3 separate regions of the Homo sapiens genome follow, and all the other regions are linked to region 1. The links come from fine-mapping of genetic effects on gene expression. A gene starts in region 1. Each other region holds a variant in brackets. All regions are shown on one strand. Distances are from middle to middle.

Evidence for each region. PIP is the estimated chance that this variant, and not a neighbour inherited with it, causes the effect.
Region 2: its variant is the best candidate, but not a certain one, in a credible set for the expression of UBE3C in whole blood (TOPMed, PIP 0.57).
Region 3: its variant is the best candidate, but not a certain one, in a credible set for the expression of UBE3C in naive CD4 T cells (Schmiedel 2018, PIP 0.83).

What each region holds. Positions count from the first base shown.
Region 1 is chr7:157,134,058-157,142,241 of GRCh38, reverse strand. UBE3C (ubiquitin protein ligase E3C) reads right to left here and starts at 3,316. Exons shown (of 23, transcript NM_014671.3): 1 at 2,904-3,316. The coding sequence starts at 2,969. RefSeq lists silencers at 2,685-2,754, 2,805-3,194, 3,475-3,824.
Region 2 is chr7:157,264,503-157,272,686 of GRCh38, reverse strand. UBE3C (ubiquitin protein ligase E3C) reads right to left here. Exons shown (of 23, transcript NM_014671.3): 23 at 3,317-5,102. The coding sequence ends at 4,932. Among named protein-coding and RNA genes, the nearest start is that of DNAJB6, 68 kb to the left of the region's middle. RefSeq lists enhancers at 1-103, 418-712, 104-872. The variant ATTTAT/T (reference allele first, on the strand shown) is at 3,587.
Region 3 is chr7:157,234,815-157,242,998 of GRCh38, reverse strand. The region is part of intron 18 of UBE3C (ubiquitin protein ligase E3C); the gene reads right to left. Among named protein-coding and RNA genes, the nearest start is that of DNAJB6, 98 kb to the left of the region's middle. The variant G/C (reference allele first, on the strand shown) is at 3,447.

The DNA.
Region 1 (8,184 bases):
TTTAAGACATGAGAAAAGGGTCACTATAACTTCATTTTTCCAACAAGGGAAGGGACTTATGCGGCAGTCAAAGAGAATTCAGGAAAACAAGCATATGTAGGTGCTCAACATAATTAGTTGTCAGGAAACAAAATTAAAACCACAAAGAAACTACATCCTCACTAAAATTAAAGGACTTGCAATATCAAGTGTTGGCAAGGATGTGGAAACCTGGATACCTTCAGATGCTGTGGGCGTGCGACACGGGGAAACTGTGGCAGCGGTGTGCACAACAGCTGAACATGCGTATCATCTAGGACCCAGCACAAGAGTATTATGTGCACCAAAAGGCACACACAGCAAAGGTCTGTAAGAAAACAGAATCAGCCACGGTGCGTTCACACAAAGGGCAATGCCGTGCACCGAGGCGGATGGAGTCCACCTCTCAGACAGAAGCCAAGCCAAAGCAGCCGGGCACAAACGACAAGTGGTGAGTGGCTCCATGCCCCTGAAGTTCAACAGGTAACGCTCATCTACAGTAATGGAGGTCAGAAGGACAGTCACCTTTGTGGGGCTACAGACATACATGGCATAATGACCTCTCAGTCTGTCGACAACAGACCACATATACACCGTGGTCCCATAAGATTATAATTTGTATTTTTACTGTATCTACGTTTGGATGCACAGACACTCACCATTGCATGAAGAGCTGCCTACAGTATTCAGCACAGAAACACGCTGTCCAGGTGTGTAGCATAGGGGCAACGGGCTGTACCAAGCAGCTAGGTGTGCAGTGGGCAACACTGGCTATAGGTTTCTGTTAAGTGCACTCTAGGACGGTCCCACAACAACCAACTGGACTAGTGACAGCGTCCCCCTCTTTAAGTCACATATGACTGTAATGAATGGGTGAGAGTGCAGGGGAGCCTCTGGAATGCTGGGGATGGTCTTCCTTTGATGTGAGTGGTGTTCCATCTACAGGAGAGTGTCCATATGCAAAAATCCTTCAAGCTGTACATACAGCTGGCTCCCCACCCAGATTCCTTAACCAGGCCAGGGCACCCATGCCCCAGCTGCTGCCAGTTCCTACTAAGGGCTCTTTACTGCCACTCTCTCCCAGAAGAATGGCCCTCGGCTCAGGGTTAGCAGTGCCACACTCCCACCCTCATCCCGGAGGGGCAGCAGCCTGCAGCCACCAACCCCTCTGCCGCAATTAGGGCCAATTGTAGCATGCTCCTGGTGAGATGGGGTTAACGCTAGCCTCCAGCTGAGACGCCTTTTCCTTCCCTACCCAGCTTCCCTCTCGCCCTTCCTCCTCAATTTCACTTGCACAAGGATCTCTTTAGTGTTTGTGAACCTGACTGTATCTTAAGTTATACCTCAATAAAAAGAGTTTTGTTTTTAAAGGGGTGATTCTTTTACACAGCTCGTGCTATCTTCCCTTGAGATTCTGATCAACAGTTAAGAAATCTCACTCCCTCAGAGCAGAGATGCACTCCTTGGTGAAAAGGGACCAACATCCGTGGCCCGTGGGGTGTTCCTGCCTGCAACAGAGGCCGCGCGGCGCTGTGTAAATGGCATGGAGTCTCAGATGGTCTGCCACTAGCTTGCTGTGTGAATGGGCACTCCTTCAAATGTTCTGCAGCTCACCTTCCGAACTTGTAAGCAAGGCGATTTGGCCCTGAGATTCTCTGAAGTCTCTCCTAACTGTAGAAATCCTTTGATCTCATAAAACATTTTCATTAACGTGGAAGACCCTAAGTGCTACCACGACCACCCTTAACTGCACAGTACTTAGTTCTGGAGCACAAGTGACTTCCAAGCAATCACCATCACACGAACCTCAAAGCTGAAAAATTATCAGCACACTTCTCTCCCAACTCTTTACCCAGGTTCCCTTCTAACCTCAGAAACCACCAAACACAGCCCCACAGCACAATCTTAATAACAGCAGTTCCTCCTTGGCCTGCCAGCACCCACTCTGCGTTATGTGCCTACCTGGTGGTTGTGATATACAGAATATACTGATAGACAAGAAAAACTAGGTGAAGCATTTTAAAGAACATTTCAGAAATGATGGGAAGGGGTGGGAAGGGAGGGGCGGGAACAAGACCACACAGTGTTCAACGACTTAGCGGTTCCAGTGAACCAACTGATGCCCGTCTTCAGGGACAGACAGCTAGAAATTCTAGACTAGAACAGAGGCGTCATGGTTTGCCTACCCTTATCCTAAACAATTACCATGCGAACAACTTAATGTCGATCACAACAGATGTAAGTCCGGAGTCTCTCCACAGTTTCCAGGAGGCTGGTGGCAAATAATTGCCCTCGTCTTGGATTCAAACACGTGGCTATTCATGAGACGTTCTGCCTCTACTTTAGAGATTATCGACATCAGCAAATGCGTGCCGTTCACCTTCTACAACCGAAAACGCCCTTCAGGTGGCATTCGAAAAGCAGCCACTCCCTGATGCCATGCGGGAGCGAGCATGGAAAGCGCATTTCTGAAAGGAAACACCCAGAAAGGGTAAGTTCACCTTGGGTGGCACAAAGCGTGCCAGGGTTCACCGGCCTCCTGCATGGAAGGGAGCCACGGCCAGCGCGCCCGGGTCCCGAAGCGCAGTGGACAGGCAAGGCCCCCACGGGCGCGGCCTCGAGTTCCAGCCAGGGAGGCCCCGAGTCCAGTCCTAAGCCCCAGCCAGAGTCCTGGCCCCAAGTCTCGGCTCCGAGTCCAACCCCGAGTCCCGGCCGGAGCGGCCCCGAGATCCGGCGAGGAAGCCCCGAGTCCCCGCCAGGGAGGCCCCGAATCCAGCCCCAAGTCTCGGCCCCGAGTCCAGCCCCGAGTCCAGCCCCGAGTCCCAGCCCCGAGCCCCGGCCGCGCAGGCCCCGAGCCGAGGGCGCCCCGCCAGCCCGGCCCTCACCTTCCTGCTCGCGCCGCCAAGGGACACCTTGGGCCGCGTCTTGAAGTCGCCTTCGAAGCTGAACATCCTGGCAGCCTAGCCCATGTGCGGGCAGCGCCGCCGCGGAAGCAGCCGGGCGGGCGGGGCACGGGGCGGGCTGGGAGGCTCTCGGCGCCCGCCCGCCCGGCCCGGGGCAGCGAGGACGCGGCGGCCGGGAGGCGACCCGAGCCCGCCCCCGGGCTGTACCCTCCCAGCCCTGCCCTGGGGCGGGAGGGGCGGCAATACTGGAGGGGCGGCCCTGCCTCGCCTGCCCCTCATCCACGCCGGCCACAGCTCGGGCCGCTGCAGGGGCGCCCAGCGGGCAGCAAACCCGGCGCTTGCACCTGGAACTGCCGCCTCGGGAGGGAAGATGGCGGTCAGCCGTCAGTGCGTGCGCGGCCCTGCAGACGTGCGCGGCCCTGCAGACGTGCGCGGCCCTGCAGACGTGCGCGGCCCTGCAGACGTGCGCGGCCCTGCAGACGTGCGCGGCCCTGCAGACGTGCGCGGCCCTGCAGACGTGCGCGCCTCCGCCATTGACGGCACGGCGCTCTTCCCGGCGGTTCCGCTAGCGTGCGCGGCCCCGCAAGGCGCGCTGGAGCCTGGGGAGGACGGCGGTGACGCGGGCTGGGCACGCGGCGGAGTGGGCGGGGCCTGGTGCGTGCTGGGGGAGCGCGGCGAGGGGCGCGGGAGGTGTTGGGTGCGGGGCAGGGTGCGGGAAAGGTGGAGTGCGAGGCACGGGCCGGGATGGGGTGCAGGGCAGGGTGCGGGGTGCAGGGTGGGGTGCAGGGGCCGGCACCCGGAGCGGGCTGGGAGCGGCCAATCTGGTGCCAGACTCGAGTGAGGCGGGAAAGGAGCAGCTAGGCCCAGCCCGTCTGTTTACATCCCACCTGTTCTATGTCTATGACACGCACAGACGGACGTAAATATTTACCATGTACACAGACATGCGCAGATTTGCCTCATACATAGCACACATATGCATCTATAGATACAGCATCAATACATATAAATATGTATCATGTACACATACCTGTGTATGCAAAAATATTTGCTCCTGGACTTACCATGGGGCTTTGTCCTGATAAACCCATCGTAAGATGAAAATATTGTAAGTTGAAAATGTATTTAATGCTACAATAAACCCATCACAAAGTCAAAAAATTGTAAGTTGAGCCATTTTAAGTTGGGGACCACCTATACATAAACATGTGTCTTATATCCACACATACGTATACATAATATCTCATATACATGTGCATATACATATATATCATACACGATTGAAACCAATTTCTAAAAATTGATTTTTGGTTGTATACAAGGTGTGCAACATGATGATTTCATAGAGACATTGTGAAATGACTACCCTCTTTGTGTGTGTGTGGTAAGAGTACATAAAATCTACTCTCTTAGCAAAATTTCAACACACAATACGATATCATCTACAGTCGTCCTGCGGCCGAGCACGGTCGCTCACGCCGGTAATCCCAGCACTCTGGGAGGCCAAGGCGGGCGGATCACCTGAAGTGAAAAGTTCGAGACCAGCCTGGCCAACATGGTGAAACCCCATCTCTAATAAAATACAAAACTTAGGCCGGTGTGGTGGTGCACGCCTGTAGTCCAAGCTACTCTGGAGGCTAAGGCAGGAGAATTGCTTGAACCCAGGAGGCAGAGGTTGCAGTGAGCTGAGATCGTGTTATTGCACTCCGGCCTGGGCGACACAGAGACTCCGTCTCAAAAAAAAAAAAAAAAAAAGAAATACAGTCCTGGCGCCGCCTGTAATCCCAGCACTTTGGGAGGCTAAGGTGGGTGGATCACCTCAGGTCAGGAGTTTGAGACCAGCCTCGCCAACATGGGGAAACCCCGTCTCTACTAAAAGTACAAAAATTAGCTGAGCATGGTGGCATGTTTATGTATAGGTGGTCCCCCACTTAAAGTTCTTAAACTTCTAGCTGCTTGGGAGGCTGAGACAAGAGACTCGCTTGTGTCTGCGAGGCGGAGGTTGCAATGAGCTGAGATCGTGCCACTGTACTCCAGCCTGGGTGACAGAGTGAGACTCTGTCTCAAAAAATAAAAATAAACAGGCCGGGCGCGGTGGCTCACGCCTGTAATCCCAGCACTTTGGGAGGCCGAGGCGGGCAGATCACGAGGTCAGGAGATCGAGACCATCCTGGCTAACACAGTGAAACCCCGTCTCTACTAAAAATACCAAAAAAATTAGCCAGGCATAGTGGCAGGCGCCTGTAGTCCCAGCTACTTGGGAGGCTGAGGCAGGAGAATGGCGTGAACCCGGGAGGCGGAGCTTGCAGTGAGCCGAGATCGCGCCACTCGCGCCACTGCACTCCAGCCTGGGGAACAGAGGGAGACTCCGTCTCAAAATAAATAAATAAAAATAAAAATTAATAACAATAATAATAAACAGTCCTCCTGTGAACATTAGATCTGTGGGCATATTTATGCTACATAACTGCGAGTGTGTTTCCTTTTACATATCTCTCCCCATTTTTCCCAGCCCCAGGAAGCACCACTCTACTCTCTGTTTCTAGATAGGATTTGACTGTTGGATTCCACGTATAAGTGAGCTCATCAGTATCTTTCTCTCTGTCTCGCTTATTTAACTTGGCATCATGTCCTCCAGGTTCACACATGTAGCCAATGACAGGAATTCCTTCTGTATCTTGCTGTTATGAATAATGTTGCAATGAACTGAGAGGAGCTCCAGAAGAAACAATTTCATTTCCTGTAGATATATAACCAGCAGAGGGATCGCTGAGTCATGTGGTAGTTCCAGTTTTGTTTTTTTTGAGGAAACTCCATACTGTTTGCCATAATGGCTGTACCTCCAACGATGGGCAAAGGCTTCTATTTCCCCACACCCTCACCAACACTTGTCTTTTGGATAATAGCCATGCTAATACTGTGAGGTGATATTTCATTGTGGTTTTGTTTTGCATTTCCTTGACGGTTATTGACGATGAGCACCTTTTCATTACCTCTTGGCCGTTTTTATGTCTATTTGGAAAAATTCAGGCCCTTTGCTCGTTTTTTAATTGGGAAAAGCCAAATTTTAAAACTAATATTTGTCATTACTATGTGGAATGCACTGTTTTTTTTAAAAAAAATTCTGTCTTTTTATTTTATTTTATTATTATTTTTTTGAGACAGGGTCTCACTGTATTGCCCAGGCTGGAGTGCTGTGGTACGATCACAGCTAACTGCAGCCTCAACCTCCTGTGCTCAGGCAATTCTCCCAGTTCAGCGTCCCAAATGGCTGGACCAGGTGTGTGCCAGTAGCCTGGCTTTCCCCCCAACCCCCCAGCTTTCCCCCCCCCCCCACTTCTTGTAGAGGTGGGTCTCATTATGTTGCCCAGGCTGGTCTCAGATTCCTGGGCTCAAGAGATCCTCCTGCCTCGGCCTCCCAAAGTGCTGGGATTACAGGCATGAGCCACTGCACCCACTGTCGTCGTCTTCTTTTTAATGCTAGACGCAAAGCACTAAATACGTTTCACAATCCACTAATGGGTCTCAGCTCACAGTTTGAAAAAATCTGCCATATAAATTAAATATAGACAGATAGATGGTTAGAAAGATATACAAACACTCTACTGTTGTCTGAATGTTGGTGTCTCCCCAAAATCATAGTTTGAAACTTAGTCCCCAATGTGATCGTATTAAGAGGAGGGGCCATTAGGAAGTCTTATAGCATGAGGCTCCACCCCCATGAAGGAAATCAGTGCCCAAGGCAGCCTGTTTGTCCCTCCTGCCATGGGGAGACACAGCAAGAAGGCACCATCTATGAAGCAGAGTCCTCAGACGCAGAATGTGGGGTGCCTTGATCTTGGACTTCCCAGATTCCAGAGCTGTGAGAGATATATTTCTGTTGTCCAAAAATTACCCAGGCCAAGGCATTTTGTTATAGCAACCCAAATAGACTAAGGCACCCACACCCAGACACAAATGTGTGTGTGTATATATATGTGAACAAGGTCACAGTTCGTATATATGTATGAACTATCATAGTTCATACATATATTTGAACTGCAACAGTATAGAATGTATTTTTAATCATAAAATGTCCCAATTTTACCATTTTGAAAGCTTACAAATTTTGTCAATTAAAAAAGATATAACCTTTTGTTTTTACCTGTCAGGTTAGCAAAGATTTAAAATTGGTAATATCAATATTTGTGACCTCTGTAAGTCTGCTCTGAAGTCTCAGATTCTTTTTTTTTTTTTTTTTTTTTTGAGACAGAGTCTTGCTCTTGTTGCCCGGGTTGGAGTGCAATGGCGTGATCTTGGCTCACTGCAGCTTCCACCTCTCCACCTCCTGGGTTCAAGCGATTCTCCTGTCTCAGCATCCCGAGTAGCTGGGATTATAGGTGCGCTACCATGCCCGGCTAATTTTTGTGTTTTTAGTAGAGATGGGGTTTCACCACGTTGATCAGGCTGATCTTGGACTCCTGACCTCAGATGATCCGCCCGCCTTGGCCTCCCAAAGTGCTGGGATTACAGGCGTGAGCCACCGCGCCCAGCCTGAAGTCTGAGATTCTGCTTCGAATGAACCCTTCCAATGTCTGGACTAGGAGGAGGAGCAAGAATGCCCATGTGAATCTCACACCAACCTCAGTGTTGCTGGTAACTGGGGGGTGCTGTCCCACATCTGCTGGGCCTCTTTCAAATGTTCTGACCGGCCCACATGGGTAGGGAAGAAGTGCTCCTGACTGCACCTCTGCCCATCTCAACACCGCTGCCTGGCATCTGGTCTGTTTCCACAGTCAGCCCAGGGTGGGTGCTCCTCTGTGCTGAGGTCGGTGCGTCTGCTGGGTGGCCCTGCTCCATGAGCCACTTCTTCCCCTGGTGTCCACTGGAGAACCAGTGATGCCACAGGAAAATCTGTCTTATCAGGATCATTTCAGCATCTTTAACATGATTCCTAATGAAGGATTTTCAAGGATTTTAAAAGTACCTTTTTATAGAAAATTTCAAACTCAACAAGCCAGGGAGACTCATATAATCAATCAGTCTCCTTCAGCTATCGCCCAGCGTCAGTGAGTGCCCACCCCAGGGCCAATCTTATGTGATTAGACTCCCCTCCATCCCTTTGAAGCAAATTCCAGACGTCATTTTGTCAGTAACCCTTAAAAAGTGGAATTTTTGTACAAGATTATGATCTCATTATCACTCTACAAAGATTAATAATTTTCAAGAGTAATTTTCACTATAAAAGATTTTCAGGCTGGGCATGGTGGCTCACACCTGTAAT
Region 2 (8,184 bases), 130 kb before region 1:
ATGTTCAAAATACTGAGCTGAAGATCTCTTGACACCAGTTTTACGGTTCAGATAGGAGCTCCCAGCACCAGCCTCATCTTCCCTGACCCCCGACTGGGCAAAAGCAAACGTAGAGGCTCGAAGGGCTGTGGGCCAGGCCACAGCCGAGCAGTCGGCAGCTGTGCCACAGACCATCCTCCATGGAGCCTGGATGGCACGTACAGCTGGAGGTTCCGGCCCAGGTGCTGCGGGTATCAGGACTCCCTGGAGCACCAGAAATGAACTCCAGGCAAATCAGCTGGAATGCCCTGCAACTCCCAACCTAGAAGTTTTTAACATTGAAAGGATTTTTTGAGACTGTCTAATTGTTTTCCAGAAATCACCTGTGAAGGATTATCCAGGACACTATAAAAAATACAGACTGCTAAGCCCCAACCCCTAGAGACACAATGGCCTTCAGGAAGGGCCGGGAACACTGATCTCATGCACCGCTCGTTTTACTGAGTCAAAGGAAAGGCTTGTTTGCGTCTGCGTGGGCAACAGCCAAGTACAACCAGAACACGTTTCGAAATCCCCACGGGTCTACCTACCACACTTAAATCAACACAGCCAGAATGGGGCTGCCCAAAGAAACAGGCCACGTCCTGACTCCAGGACATGTGTACATACATGGCCTTATTTGGAAAAAGTCTTTGCAGATGTAATTGAGGATCTTGAGATGAAGTCATCCTGGATTACAGGGGTGTCTATAGGAAAAAGGCAGGACACTGGAGACAGGGGGAGAAGACACCAGATACCAGAAGCTGGAGGAGACAAAGGGTTCCTCCCTGAGGCTGTGAGGCCTCCTGATCCCTGGAGGAGAGAAATGCTGCTGCTTTAAGCCACCTGATTTGTGGTAATTTGCTACAGCAGCCACAGGGAGCTGATGACCATGAACACGATACCATTTTAAGAAAGACTACCCCCCTCACACTTGAATGAGCTCTAACAGCTCTGGTCCTGTCAAGTCTGTGGATGCAAGCACGACAGCATCCATTCAGTCATCACCTCAAACTCATCAGTCCATCGGCGCCATCCCATTACCTAGCACGGTGCGTACGTGGAGTGACGCTGGCCAGTTCACATGCGGGTCCTGAGCTGTGAAGGCGTGGAGCACCCATCGTGGAGGCGGACTTCTGTCTGCAATCCTGGCAGTTCAAGGAGACGCATGGACCTTGTGCTATCCACAAATCTAAGAAACATTGCCAGCAATTGAATTCTTTGGGTGACTCAGTATGTGAACACCCTCCACGATAAATTCAAGACTGACACCAGGCTGCTTCCATGACATAAGATCACCTTAATGAGCACAACAGGTGTGCCTTTCTTTATTCTGGATCGTGCAGAAAGAAAAACCCAGTGACTTCTGCCGTATTTGCCTCTCTAGGCAGCCCCAGTTGGCTGGCTATGGTTCCCTCCTGTGACACCCTTCGAGCCTCTATGTTTGCTTTTGCCCACTCCAGGGTCAGGGAAGACGAGGCTGGTGGTGGGAGCTCCTATCTGAACGGTAAAATTGGTGTCAAGAGTCTTCAGCTCAGTATTTTGAACATAAATAAGGCCCTCAGTTATAAGCTAATGACGGACACTGCCTCCTGTCAACATTTAGAAGTGCGCAATCGATGAATCCAAACCACAGCAATCCATCTCAGTAATCAGAACGTGAACCATCCTCTTAAAGCAAAAGTGGGGCCGGGCGCGGTGGCTCACGCCTGTAATCCCAGCTACTCGGGAGGCTGAGGCAGGACGATCGCTTGAACCCGGGAGGCGGAGCTTGCAGTGAGCCCAGATAGTACTACTGCACTCTGGCCAGGGCAAATGAGCGAGACTCTGTCTCAAAAAAAGAAAAATGCACATAAAAAGAGAACAGCATTTAAAGAGATTACCGTTTTCTGCCTACCTCTGCAGAAGAAAAAGTAGTAGTAACGTTGCCTTTATACAGCAATATTTTTATTGTTAAGACCTTGGCCAAAACTATTGTAACCTTGTAGGCTGTTAGGGCAGACTTTTGAAGATGTGATGTTTGCAACCTGTGACACCAACCGCCTAGGGAGACAAATTAAAACGTGGTTTACAGTATGTGAAAGTCAAAAGCCTGTCTACAATGCTCATGGCATCTCCAGAATGCTCCTGTGAAACCCAAGCCTCCAGACTGTCCCTGTTTCACAGATAAATCAGTCGAGGCACAAAGCACTTGGGCTCAAGAACTTACCCTCAGAATTTTCTGGAAGCAGAGACCTTTGTGTAGTCAGTGCCTTTTCCCACCTGGACATGCTGGTCACCAGTCTCTTCAGGTCACCAACTTTGACCACCATCCAAGCACCAGGAAAAGCCCTCTGGGTTGATCCCAGCATGCCACAGTGTAGCACTCCAGCATTCAGCCCGTGTTTGGGAAGTCTAGGTAATTTCTCATTAGAAAAACCTCCAGGTGAACCTGCTGTTCTGTGAGGGATGCACAGGGTGGCTGCGTCACTTCCTAGACTACCCTGCTAGTTGTGATGCTTGCTGACCCGGAGCAGGTGGATCTGAAAGAGCTGAGCATGCCCTGAATTTCTATTTGAGTTACCATATGCCTTTGGCTGTTTATTTCTTTCAAGTATGAGAAAGCTTACGTATTCAATTATTTCAGGTTCACCACTCACCTCCTCAGGAAGTTCCTGGAAGGAGTCATTAACCCCACCACAGCCTTTCCCGTGCTCCCAGTTCCACCACTGGAGGCCTGCATGTCAACGGCAGGGATACATAGAGTGTAGACTGCAGGCTCACGATGGGCAGGGATGCAGTATCTGGTTTCCCACACTCCGCAAAAGCACACACCATCCTGTAAACCACTGCAATCGATAAAGCTGCCTTAACGAGCTCAGGATACCAAAACAAAGATCTCTCTGCAGATAACACCTCATGAGAAGTATCTGCAATAACCCCAAGTCAACATTTAGGTTTGTGTACAAAATTACCAGAAAGCAGAAAGTAGGACAGAACGTAGAAAAGGGCAAACAAAACAAAGAACAAAGAATCTTCCTCCAGAAATTTTTCAAGAACTAATGCCAGACCCAATGGGAGACTCGGGAAGCCAACACCCGTGGCTGGTCGGATAGGAGCACACCGGCCGCCGGCCTGGGAGCCACGCTCGGCCCACCCCTGATGACAGGCATCCTCCCGAGGACCTCTGATTCTCAGTGAGTGTAGGCCATCTTACTATACTCCATTAGCTGGTGACATGCAAACACCTGTGATAAAACTAGTAACATTCAGAAGCTGTGCTAATCACAATGATTTGGGGTAGGACTCCAACACAATCTTGGGAAAAAAAACATTTAATGTAAATGTTTAGCCATTAGAACATACAAATAAATAAATAAGCTCAGAATAGCTGAGAAAAAAACCACAAATAAGTGAATTGTCAATTTCTCTTCAGTCTCAGATATGCTATTTCCAAAATACTAATAAAATATACAAATTAACTAATAAGATATAGAACATTCAACATAAAACAACCTAAAATAAAAAAGACCAACCCTAATTATTTTATTTCTGTATATCAAGACTACAAATAGCATTTAAACGCTTA[ATTTAT/T]TATTCAAATTAAGAAATTATACATTTTGTTTTGATAATGTTCATTGTCTTAAAAGTGTCATTCAGCTTTCCCACTTTAAAAGTATATTGCTAATTATGGTCAATTAACTATGACAGCCCACAGAGCCTCCAGTGACAGTAAAATACGAGACATAGAAGAGATAAATGAGGATTTAGATCCCCTCCCCCCAGCATCAGCAAAGGGTCACTCTGCTCCCACAGCTGACGCTTTGAAACGCTTTCTGTTTGTAGAGACTAAAATCACCCAGCAACAGGTCAGGTCCTGATAAAGTGCCTACTGCAAGAACTACCGACACTCCTCTTCCCTGGATGTGCACCAGGGACTGTCCCGTCTTCGAGTCAGAGCAGCACCAGGAAGCAGAGGGTGCCAAGCATGGCGAGTCACCCCCAAATATCCAGGAAGACAAGTGGGCGCAGCCCAGGGGAAAGGAGGGCGAGCGGATGATGGGAGACCGGCACGGCTAGCATCGGGACAAAGATGCAGCCGCCACTTTGGTTCAAACAACTTTAATGACACCACAGTGTCTGTCCTCCCCCAAGTAACTGGGTATAGTGGGTGACAGATGTTGCAGTAGCTTGGCAGACCCTCCTCCTCCACCTCCCCTGAAAGCTCTCCAGGCACAAAGTGGAGATAGAAATAGGACAATGAATGAAGTCCCCACCTCACATCCACAGACAGTATCTCCAAACCATCATGAGGCAGGCCACGGTATACTGAAAACAAGCATGCTAGTCCCATTTGGGGAAATGGCTTAAAAAGCACAAATAAAATATTACCATCATCATCTCTTTTCCAAACCTAACCACTTTGGGAAAGGCAGCAGAAAAAAAAAATGCCTTCAGTTTTAATAATGAGGCTTGTAAACAATCCAACCACATAAGCAGCAGCGGCCCCATGGCGTCTCAGCCCTCAGACCCTGTATCTCTGCCGCCTGTGCAGCCCTGTCTGAACCCTGGAGTGGCGCTGCCTGCTCAGGAGGGCTCTGATCTCACCAGCAAAGCCAAAGCTTCATCTTTGGTTAATTTCACTGAGATGCCACTAGTGTAAAAACTGTGCTCTTCTTGGCAATATTACTAAAGTAGCCACATGGCACATAACGTGTTATTTTAAGTTATTTGAAAAGCAATGTCCATCTAAATAAGTGACCACACCGTAATAAAAATCATTTAAAAAAGGAAGGGAGGGAGGAATGGCAGAATGAAAGAAGGAGCTTAGGAGAGCCTCAGGCGTGCAGTGTGAGTATCCTCGTGGGTCTGGGGAGGCGCTGCTGACGAAGGAAGCACTGGTTCTCTGTAGGGGTCTGACCCCAGCATCAGCTTCAGCTCAGCTCAAAGCCAGCGGCACATTCAATCGCATAGAGAAGTTTACTTCGCAAAAGTGTCTCGTCATAGAACTCGGGGAGCTTCAGCAGGTTCATGCAGGTGCTGGCTGTGGGGAGCCGCTCAAGGTCGGAGCCTCCGTTGTGAATACAAAATGCGGGATACAACTCCTGAAAAACAGCATGTGTGCAAGATGTCACTGTAACAAGCATGGCATTACATGAGTTTTAATACAAAGTACACAAAATGTGCCTGCTCCAATCAGTAAAGTTACCATTGCAGTCACATTTTCCCGAAACCACATTTGCTTTGTTGTTGTTGTTTGTTTTCTTTGAGATGGAGTCTAGCTCTGTCGCCCAGGCTGGAGGGCAATGGCGCCATCTCAGCTCACTGCAACCTCTGCCTCCCAGGTTCAAGCGATTCTCCTGCCTCAGTCTCCCAAGTAGCTGGGATTACAGGTGCCTGCCACCATGCCTGGCTAATTTTTGGATTTTTCCTAGATAAGGGGTTTCACCACGTTGGCCAGGATGGTCTTGAACTCCTGACTTTGTGATCTGCCCACCTCTGCCTCCCAAAGTGCTGGGATTACAGGCGTGAGCCACCGTGCCTGGCCCACATTTGCTTTTTTAAAAAATTACATTGATGGCTTAGTTCTAACTTACATAAAAGATTATGCACTGTGCTTCAGGCATAAAAAGGGATAAATAACATTCCAGGCCAGGCGCATAGCTCACACCTGTAGTCCCAGCACTTTGGGAGGCCTAGCTGGGGGATGGCTTGAGCTTAGGAGTTCGAGACCAGCCTGGGCAACATAACGAGACCTCATTTCCACTAAAAATAAAAATCAAAACAATTAGCCAGGTGTGGTGGTCTGCCCCTATACTCCCAGCTACTTGGGAGGCTGAGGTGAAAAGATGTCTTGAGCCCAGGAGGTCGAGGTTAGTGAGGTATGATCACACCACTGCACTCCAGCCTGGGCAACACACAGTGAGACCCTGTCTATAAAAATTTTTTAAAAAGGATCAAGATTTATTCTATCTTTCCTGTACAAGCTATTACTCGGGTTAACCAAATCATTGGTGAGAAGAAACAAAGCTGTTTTTAAATAGAAAATTCCAGCTAATAAATTATACAATTATGTAATTAGAACACGGCTGTTTTAGAAGCACATTAAACAATGGATCTAGGCAGTGATAAGTGACCACTAAAATCAAGAGGAATTCTGACGCAGAGATCGATCCCAGCATTGTGGGGAGATGACTCACGAGAAGTGGATCTCCACGATGATTAAGGGAATGGGAAGCATACGACATTACCTATGTGATGTTATTGCCAAAAAAAGAAAAATTCAAATTTAGAATCTGATGAGACCTCTATCAGTTTTCAAGAGATACAAAGAAGCAACCCAGTTACCCTATTATTTTTATTTATTTATTTTTTTGAGACGGAGTCTTGCTCTGTCACCCAGGCTGGAGTGCAGTGGTGCAATCTCGGCTTACTGCAACATCCGCCTCCCGGGTTCACGCCATTCTCCTGCCTCAGCCTCCCGCATAGCTTGGACTACAGGCTCCCGCCACCACGCCCGGCTAATTTTTTGTATTTTTAGTAGAGACGGGGTTTCACCATGTTAGCCAGGATGATCTCGATCTCCTGACCTCGTGATCCACCCGCCTCAGCCTCCCAAAGTGCTGGGATTACAGGCGTGAGCCACCGTGCCCGGCCCCAGTTCCCCTATTCATTAAATTACAAGACGAAATTGAGGGAGGTAGAACATCTATAGACCAAATGCATGATGAAAAGTGGCTTGCTTGTGCCAGAATTTAAATAATTGTTAACAAAAAAGAAAGATGATCAGGGAAATTTGAATATTGTTTTTCAGATGTGTTCATGACGTTCTGGTATTTAAAGGTACAGTGTGAAAATTCTCATCCCTGTATCACAGATACCCAGTTCCCATTCCCACTGGCAACCAACGCTTCAGCGTCTTAAGTGCTCCCAGAGATGAAATGCACGCATGAGAAAATGTTCTCCCTCCTTTAGGTTTAAAATTGAGACGGTGAGCACATTGGACACAGTATTCCGTGCCGTGCTTTTCTCATCTGATAATGGGTCTCGCTCATCTTGCCTATTAATGGTGAGGCTATATGGTGTTCCATGCACACGCGCGGCACGACGTGTTGCTGGGCACTTCTCTCAGCTTTTTACAAAAAATGATGCAATGAATACGTACCTGGTTTTCACAGTTGTGCAAATGTATCTGTAGGCAAAAACCGTGTTAGGGATTGCTCAACGCAGACTTAATGCATGAGACCTATGGGCGTGTCGGTCCTCTGATGGCCACGAAGAACCGGTGACTCCACCTTCCTCGTATACACAAACACCATTAGCTATTTGCCTCACATTTGAGATACGTGATTTATGTGTTCTCTTCCAACAGGAAGACAATAAGGCACAGATCGCCCTCAGTCTGCTCACTGTCGCAGCCTGTGCAGATTTAGTATCTGGCACGGGTTTCAGAGACCTAGCTAGGTCAGCCCTTCCCTGCACACGTGTACACGAAACTCTCTGAGAGGTGGGCCTGGCAGCAGGAGCAGGGGCTTCACCCACATTCACAACTCCTGGGACTGTACTCTAAGAAATAATTAGAGATGCACATGATAATTTATGCACAAGAGGTTCACAGCATCACAACGAAGGAAGAGCTGTAAACAACTAAAAAACAGAAAGTAAACTGGTAAATCACATGATGGGACACTACAAGCCCATTAAAAATATCTCAAAGAATAACATGAGGAAAAATGATCCTGATGTAATGTTGAGTGAAAAAGGTAGCCTAGAAAACTGAACACAAGATACAGCTAAAATTATATTTAAAAATTACGTGACCAGGAGCAGTGGCTCATGACTGTAATCCCAGCATTTTGGGAGGCCACAACGGGTGGATCACCTGAGGTCAGGATTTCTGAGACCAGCCTGACCAACATGGCGAAACCCCATCTCTACTAAAAATAAAAAATTAGCCGGCTGTAGTGGTGCATGCCTGTAATAATTCCAATTACTCGGGAGGCTGAGGCAGGAGGCAGAGGTTGCAGGCTGCAGTGAGACGAGATCACGCATTGCACTCCAGCCTGGGCAATAAGAGTGAAACTCTGTCTTAAAAATATATATGTTTGTGTGTGTGTAACAGGCTGAGCATGTTGGCTCACACCTGTAATACCAGGTGTGTGTGTGTGTGTGTAACAGGCCGAGCAT
Region 3 (8,184 bases), 100 kb before region 1:
ACCATAATCTCTGCCTTCCGGTTTCAAGCGATTTTCCTACCTCAGCCTCCCAAGTAGCTGGAATTAGAGGCAACCACCACCACGCCCAGCTTATTTTTGTATTTTGAGTAGAGACGGGGTTTCACCATGTTGGTCAGGCTGGTCTAGAACTCCTGACCTCGTGATTCTCCCGCCTTGGCCTCCCAAAGTGCTGGGATTACAGGCTTGAGCCACCAGACCTGGCTCGACCCTTCCTTTTTTTCCTCGACTTCTAGTTCTATGGCTTCCAGGTTCAGGCTCCAAAACACAGAAACCCCTGACCCTGCTCACCAAAATATTTCTAGAAGATAAAAAACATCTTCATGAACAAGGAAGTTCGCTAAAGTAGCAAACCCATATTCCCACTTCCACTGACAAGAAGCAAACATCTGAGCATCTGAGGACAGTTTTACACTCCTGCTTCTGAAAGACAGTAGGAATTTAAAAAAAAAAAAAAAAAAAAAAACAACTCAGGCTCAGTCTCAAGGTACCCCACATAACCAAGAACTATTTTCAACAATTAGAAGAAAACATCTTTCAAGTTTCAAAATTCTACTTTTGCCATATAGGAGAATAAAATATCAGACTAGAAATCTGTCGAGCCACCTCTTGAGAAATTTGAGGACAATGATGCCTTCGATGATAACAGATTTCGTTACCATCAGGTACTATGTTTCCCTAACAACAGCTCATGCTCTAATCACTATACTCCTTCCAGCTTTAGAACGAAAGCATCCATGAACTCCGATTGATACTGACTGCTGCTTTCTCTAACTTCTGTGACACTGGCTCTCTCAGTCACCACGTTACCTACCGCACGATTCCTTTGTAACAGCTTTACTGGGATATCACCCACATAACTTACATTCAAAGGTTTTATTATATTCGTAAAGTTGTATGACCATCGCCACAATCAATTTCTGAAGATTTTCATTATTCTAAAAAGAAACTCCACATCCCTCAGCTGCCACTCCTGGTTCCTCCCAGCCCTGGCGATCACTCACCCACCTTCTGTCTCTAGATTTTCCTGTTTTGGACATTTCATATAAATGGAACCATGTCTTTGGTGATCTCTGCATCTGCTCTCACCGGGCAGAACATTCTCAAGGCACATCCATGTGTGCCATGTGTCAGTGCTTTACCCCTTTTTACGGCCCAGTAATAGTCCACTGTATGGATGAACCGTATTCTGTTTACCCGTTTGTCAGCTGATGGGCCTTTGAGTCATTTCCATCTTTTAGCTATTAGGAATAATGCTGTTGTGAGAATTTGTGTGCAAGTTTTTGGGTAAATATGTTTGCTGGGTCCAAAGGTAATTAACCTTTTGAGGAACTGCTAAACTTTTCCAAAGTGGCTGCACCATTTTATCTTCCCATTGGCAATGCATGAGGACTGATTCCTCCACATCCTCACCAACCCTGCGGTTCCTGGTTTGATTCCCGCCGTACTCGCGGGTGTGCGCGGCAGCCTGTGGCTATGCTTTGCCCTTCCTTGATGACTAGTGATGCTGGCCATCTTTGCACGAACCAATGGCCCATTTGCTTGCTGCCAGTCCCTGGAGAGATGTCCAATTGGATCCTTCGCCCATTTTTATCATGGAGTCCTTCATATATATGCCACAAGTATCTTCTCTTTCAGTGTGTTGTATTTTCAGTTTCTTGATGGTGTCTTTTGAAGCATAAACATTTTTAAGTCCAGTTCATTTTTCCTTTTGTTTTTTGTGCTCCTGGTCTCACAGCTAAGACGGGATTTTTTCCTGACTATGCTGCGACACTCAGCAGTCCATTTTCCCACATGCCCTGCAGCGCTCTGTGATCCTCAGAGCACTCTGCGTGAGTAGCTGTGGTCTCTTTTGCACCCTTGAACCACCGGGCACAGAAGGGAGGTAGGCCCCCTGTGCTCCTTACTGCCACTTCCAGACCATCCTTCCCTTCCCTCCCGCTAAAATCCCTGGCTTTCAATCTCATGCACTGGGCTTGCGCATCCATTACCTCTCCCGGGTTCAGTCACTGCCCCTTAATTCAAGATTTTAGCTCCTGAGAGTCCAACACACTCTGGTGATAATTTTTGGTGACATCTGTAGCACACAGTTGACTGTCATTCTACCATCCTGGCTGTCCCTCAACTCCACCTTAGCTACCAGTTCCTTCAGCTCTGTCCTCCAAGTGGCATTACCGGTAACTAAGCCCCTCTGATCTTAGCTCTAACCACCGCTACACTGACTCCCTGAAGGACCTCGACTCCACAGGTCTCCTCTCCTGTCCAGCTTCCCTTGCCCTCAAATCTCCATTCACGGATTAATTTCCTCTCTAAACAGCCTAGATTCAAAGGCAGGCTCTTGTAACCACTCTGAACTTGCAACCAATTCACCCTTTATTATAGTCACTTGGCAAAAAACCCCACCCCTGGTTAAATCTGACTCTACATCCTAGTCAGACCCACACAGCCGTTTACGGGTGTAGAAAAAGTAACCCACACGGCTGGTCTCACTTCACTTTATGATATTAACGTCAAGTGGGCCCTACACTAACTGGCAATCCTATTGTATTTCCATTGTCCAGTAATTCTCAAATTTCAGCATGCATCAGAGTCACACTTATTAATTGAAGCCTATTCACAGCTTGCTGGCCGGGTGCTATGGCTCACACCCATAATCCCAGCACTTTGGGAGGCTGAGGTGGGCGGATCACTTGAGGCCAGGAATTCGAGACCAGCCTGGCCAACATGGCGAAACCCCATCTCTACAAAAAACACAAAAATTAGCCGGGCGTGGTGGTGGGTGTCCGTAGTCCCAGTTACTTGGGAGGCTGAGGCACGAGAATTGCTTGAACCAGGAGGCAGAGGTTGCAGTGAGCCATGCCAAGAGCAAGACTCTGTCTCAAAAAACCCCAAAAAACCAAAAACCAAAACACACAGCTTGCTGAGCCCTAGCCCTAGAGTTCCAGATTCAGAAGGTCTGGGGTGGAGCCCAAGAATTTGCATTTTTAATAGATCCCCCGGTGATGCAGATGTGGCTGGTCTGGGAACACTGCTCTTCCCATCCTTGCTCTCTGCTGCATCACCCAGAAAGCAGCAACAGTGGGATGCAGTCAGAATGAGCTCCTGCTCCCCAGCTCATGCAGCTGCACCCAGTGTTCCTCTACCTCTTCTTGGACACGCAGCCTGTGGCGCCCCCTGCTTCAGCACCAGACCCCACACCCTCACTTTGCAGGGTGTGGTTCCTCTCTCCCTCAGCAATTCCACTGACTTATTTCCAGCAGCAAATACACATGCTGTTATTTCTCCCATCTTTAGAACACAGCTTTCCTAGCCCCATATCCCTTAAGCGGCTGCTCAAGTTTTCTTGATAACCAGTCCCCCAATTCTTCTCCGATCCTTCCTCTTGTAACTGCTCTGAAGTCTACTGCTGCAGAGTGCCCTAATCACAA[G/C]CCTGTGGTTCCATCCATTTTTACCCAGTGAACACACTTATGGAAAAGCACTTAGTCCACAGCGCAGAAAATGCCTAGCACCTTGGAAGCCCCCTGCACCCCCTTCCAGTGTTACCCTCCCAGGAGCATCAGGATCCTGCCTTCCAAAAACTGCAAGGAGCTTTGCTTGTTTCTGAACTTCCATAAATGAAATCTGACAAAATGTACTTTTGTGTGTCTGGATTCTTCAACTCAATGTTAGGTCTGTGCCGTTCACTCATACCATTTTGAGTAGCTGTAGTCTGTTCATTCAGTAAGTCTTGTGAATATCCTACAATTTATTTATTATCATTATGCTTTCGAAGGACATTTTTGTAGTTTCCAGTTTAGGGGCTATACAGTGTTACCATAAACATTCTTTCACATGTATTCTAATTAATAGGTACACATTTCTCTTGTGATATGATGTGGATATTTTCAGCTTTAATATGATGCTTTAGGAAGATAATCCTGACATTCTTTTCAGCCCATCTGCTGAGGTTTTTGCCTTCACCACGCCACAGAAATCACTTGTCCAGAGTGCTAAATGACATGGCCACTTCTCAGTGCTAAACCTTACTTGGTCTAACAGTACCATCACACAATACCCACCTTTCTCTTCCTTTCAAACACTGTCTTTATTTGGCACCTGAAATCCCACTTCTCTGGTTTTCTCCCTTCCTTTCCAGCTTCATCTCCTGAACTTCTATTAGTCAATTCTCTACTCTCTGGACTCTAAACCTTGGAGAGCCCTGGGGCTCAGTTCTTCATCTCTTCTCTTCTCCAGTGACACCTACACCCTGGGTGATCTAATTCAGGCTAATGACCTTAAGGACCCTGGGAATGCTGATGGCTCAGCCCAGATACTGCCTCTAACTTGAGGCCCCTATCCTCAACTGCCCCTCACTAAGCCTCCATAAGAATGCCTCCCTCTCCACACCTGCTCCTGCCCGCACCTTTCCCAGCTTAGTCAGCATGACCTCCATCCTTCTAGTTCTCATAACAGAACCCAGGTGGTTCCCTTACCTTCTCCTGTCCTCACACATCCCAACATCTCATTCATCAGCAAATCTCCTTGAATATGATGACTTCTTACCAGCACTACCACCGGGACATGGGCAGCAGCATCACTCCACCTGAACGATGTGACACTCCATCCGGTCTCCCAGCTTGAGTGCTTGACCAATGCTAGCTACTTACACCAAAGCCAAGGAGGCCCACGACAACACAGGCCGGATTCTGCTGCCCTCTGCTGGTGACGCCAGGAGTCCCCACTGGCCTGTCTTACTCCAGAGCGTGACCTCCACCACTCTACTTACTGCCGCCTCTCAAAGCTGATTTTAAGTTTAGAAACAATAAAATTAACACCATATACCTTCATTTGGCTTTTATTTCATAAAGTTACATTTGCTAAATCTAAATCTAAATTAAATTGAATATTTAAATGTTTAAAAGGATTTACATGGGCCCTATTTTATTATTATTTTGAGACAGGGTCTCTGTCACCCAGGCTGGAGTGTGGTGGTGCCATCACTGCTCACTGCAGCCTCTACATTTCAGGCTCAAGCAATCCTCCCACCTCAGCCTCCCAAGTAGCTGGGACTACAGACACACACCACCATGCCTGGCTACTTTTTTTTTTTTTTTAGTGGTAGAGACCAGGTCTCCCTATGTATGCCTAGGATGGTCTTGAACTCCTGGGCTTAAGTGTTCTTCCCACCTCGGCCTCCCAAAGTGCTGGGACTACAGGTATGAGCTACTGCACCCAACACTATTTTTTAGATTATTTGTTGTCTTTATTGCACAAATAAGAGCCAAAGATAAACAGCAGACTTTAAGTGGGGCCAGCAAGAGTGTGTGCTTCTAATCTTCATGGTGACAAATTAACATGGCCCAGAAAAAACAGAATGGTCTCAATACCATACTGATCCATTCTTCTCATGAATTTCAGATGTTTAACTATTGCTTGGGCGTGATGAGAAAAATAAAAAGGAAGGAATAACTCAATAGTAAGCAAGACCTACTTAATCCAAGGGCAGAAAGAATTTACCTTGTGGTGCTAAACCTACAGTGAGAAATCTTTTCTTTTTTTTTGAGACGGAGTCTCGCTCTGTCGCCCAGGCTGGAGTGCAGTGGCGCAATCTCGGCTCACTGCAAGCTCCGCCTCCCGGGTTCACGCCATTCTCCTGCCTCAGCCTCCTGAGTAGCTGGGACTACAGGCGCCCGCCACCACGCCCGGCTAATTTTTTGTATTTTTAGTAGAGATGGGGTTTCACCGTGTTAGCCAGGATGGTCTCGATCTCCTGACCTGGTGATCTGCCCACCTCGGCCTCCCAAAGTGTTGGGATTACAGGCATGAGCCACTGCACCCAGCCGAGAAATCTTATTTAGGTGCAGCAATCAACTGAATTCAGGAATACATCTCCCATTTTAACTGTAGAATCTAAACCACTTGTATTTCATGGTTAATTCTGAAGAAATAAACTTACATAGAAAACTGTCTTGCCGGGTGTGCTGGCTCACGCCTGTAATGCCAGCACTTTGGAAGGCTGAGATGGGCAGATCACCTGAGGTCAGGATTTCGAGACCAGCTTGGCCAACATGATGAAACCCCGTCTCTACTAAAAATACAAAAATTAGCCGGGCATGGTGGTGGATACCTGTAATCCCAGCTACTCGGGAGGCTGAGGCAGGAGAATCGCTTGAACCCGGGAGGTGGAGGTTGCAGTGAGCCAAGATCGCACCACTGCACTCCAGCCTGGGCAACAGAGTGAGACTCCATCTCAAAAAAAGAGAAAAAAAAAAGAGTTTAGGGTTCAAAACAAGGTATTATACAAGAGAAGCTCTGCCCCTTTAAGGACTAAGGCAACCAAAATGACTAGTATTCACCTCAATTTAGATGTTTAAAGCCTCAGCAAATTCAGTGAGCATTTTACAAAAGGATGCTAATGATGGAGAAAAAGAAACTTTCCAACTTTTGAAAATCTCAAGATAAACTGTTAAGTGCCAATATTACACTACAGAATACATTAAATGCACACTGAATTCTACCGCGATAAAAAATTATAAACCACGCCAAAGTTATACAATCTAATTGAAATTTTCAAATATATAACCAAGATCATATCAAATAATCTGATTTATAGGCATGCCATCCCAATTAAATCAATATCCTAAAGCAAGAAAAAAAGCCATTTTCAAATAGAATTCAAATATGATAAAGGATTAACCTCAATAAATATTCTGAACTTAATTGGCTTAAATGGACCTAGGTGCTTCTATCTGTAAAAAAAAGTTCAAGATGACATTACCACATCCTTGGGCTGTTTATTTATTCCCTGTCTGCAGCCTGACTTACAGGCGACAAAATGCAATCATGACCCACACCAGAAGCAAGAATCATTTGCTAATGGAACTTTTAATTGAGAAGTGACCAGTGACATGAGGTAATTCTTCCTCTGCAGGATCACTCTTGAAGACCTCTTTGCACTTTATCACAGTAAACAATCACTAACATATGCATTAAAGAAAATTTAAATACATTATGACCCAATAAATATCACAATCAATCAATATACAGTTTTCTTCTCTTGAAGATGTAATGTTCAGGTGCCACACTATCAGCTGCTGTACTATGACACTTACTTAGATCCGAGCAATGGTTAGCACATTAGCACAAAGTTTAACTCTGTAATCAGATGGTCATCAGATATGTTTTGGAAGTTAGTAACCCCTTAGGAATTTCCACACAGAGAGTAATGTAAGGGAAGTCTTAAATATGTGAAACTAAGTTAACTACCATCCTCAAATTACTCTTAGTTTTGTTATTGGTCTAAACTTTATTATTTTAAACAGCCTTAATAAGATATAACTTACATAAACTTCATTTGTGGGAGAAAGGTTTAAAATCACAAATTCTCTTCCCTGGATCTTCTGTAAATATATACATATTCCAAAGTACAGAACTGTACAATGACATCATCTTCAGAATAATTTCAATTATAAGCAATATGTCAATAAACAGAGGAGAAATGAGTTTATCCTCACCAGACTTACATAACTATTAGCTTCTACATTAATCAAGACTGGATGATTTATACATTCAGGAAGAAAAAGTAATATATAATCTTAAGATTTAATTCATGCAGGTAAAATTATTGCTCTATCTTCTGTGACTGTACTGTGTAAAAACCACCAAGTTTAGAGTATTTCAGGTTAGTCTAGCAGAACACTCACCTTTATTTTCACATATATATTAAGTTAGAAGGTTCTTGGGCTCACTTTAACAGAAAGAACTAAGGGATTTCATTGTAAAGATTTTCTTTTCTTTTCTTTTTTTTAATTTGAGACAGAGTTTTGCTCTTGTTGCCAGGCTGGAGTGCAATGGTAAGGCCTTGGCTCACCACAACCTCCGCCTCCAGGTTCAAGCCATTATCCTGCCTCAGCCTCTGGAGTAGCTGGGATTAAAGGCATGCACCACCACGCCCAGCTAATTTTGTATTTTTAGTAGAGACGGGGTTTCTCCATGTTGGTCAGGCTGGTCTCGAGCTCCCGACCTCAGGTGATCCGCCTGCCTAGGCCTCCCAAAGTGCTGGGATTACAGGTGTGATCCACCATGCCTGGCCCATTGTAAAGATTTTCATACAATGAATTATGAAATGTACATCCTCCAGGGGAAGCTGAAACTGAGAAGTAGGCTGTGTGACCATCAACAAAGAGA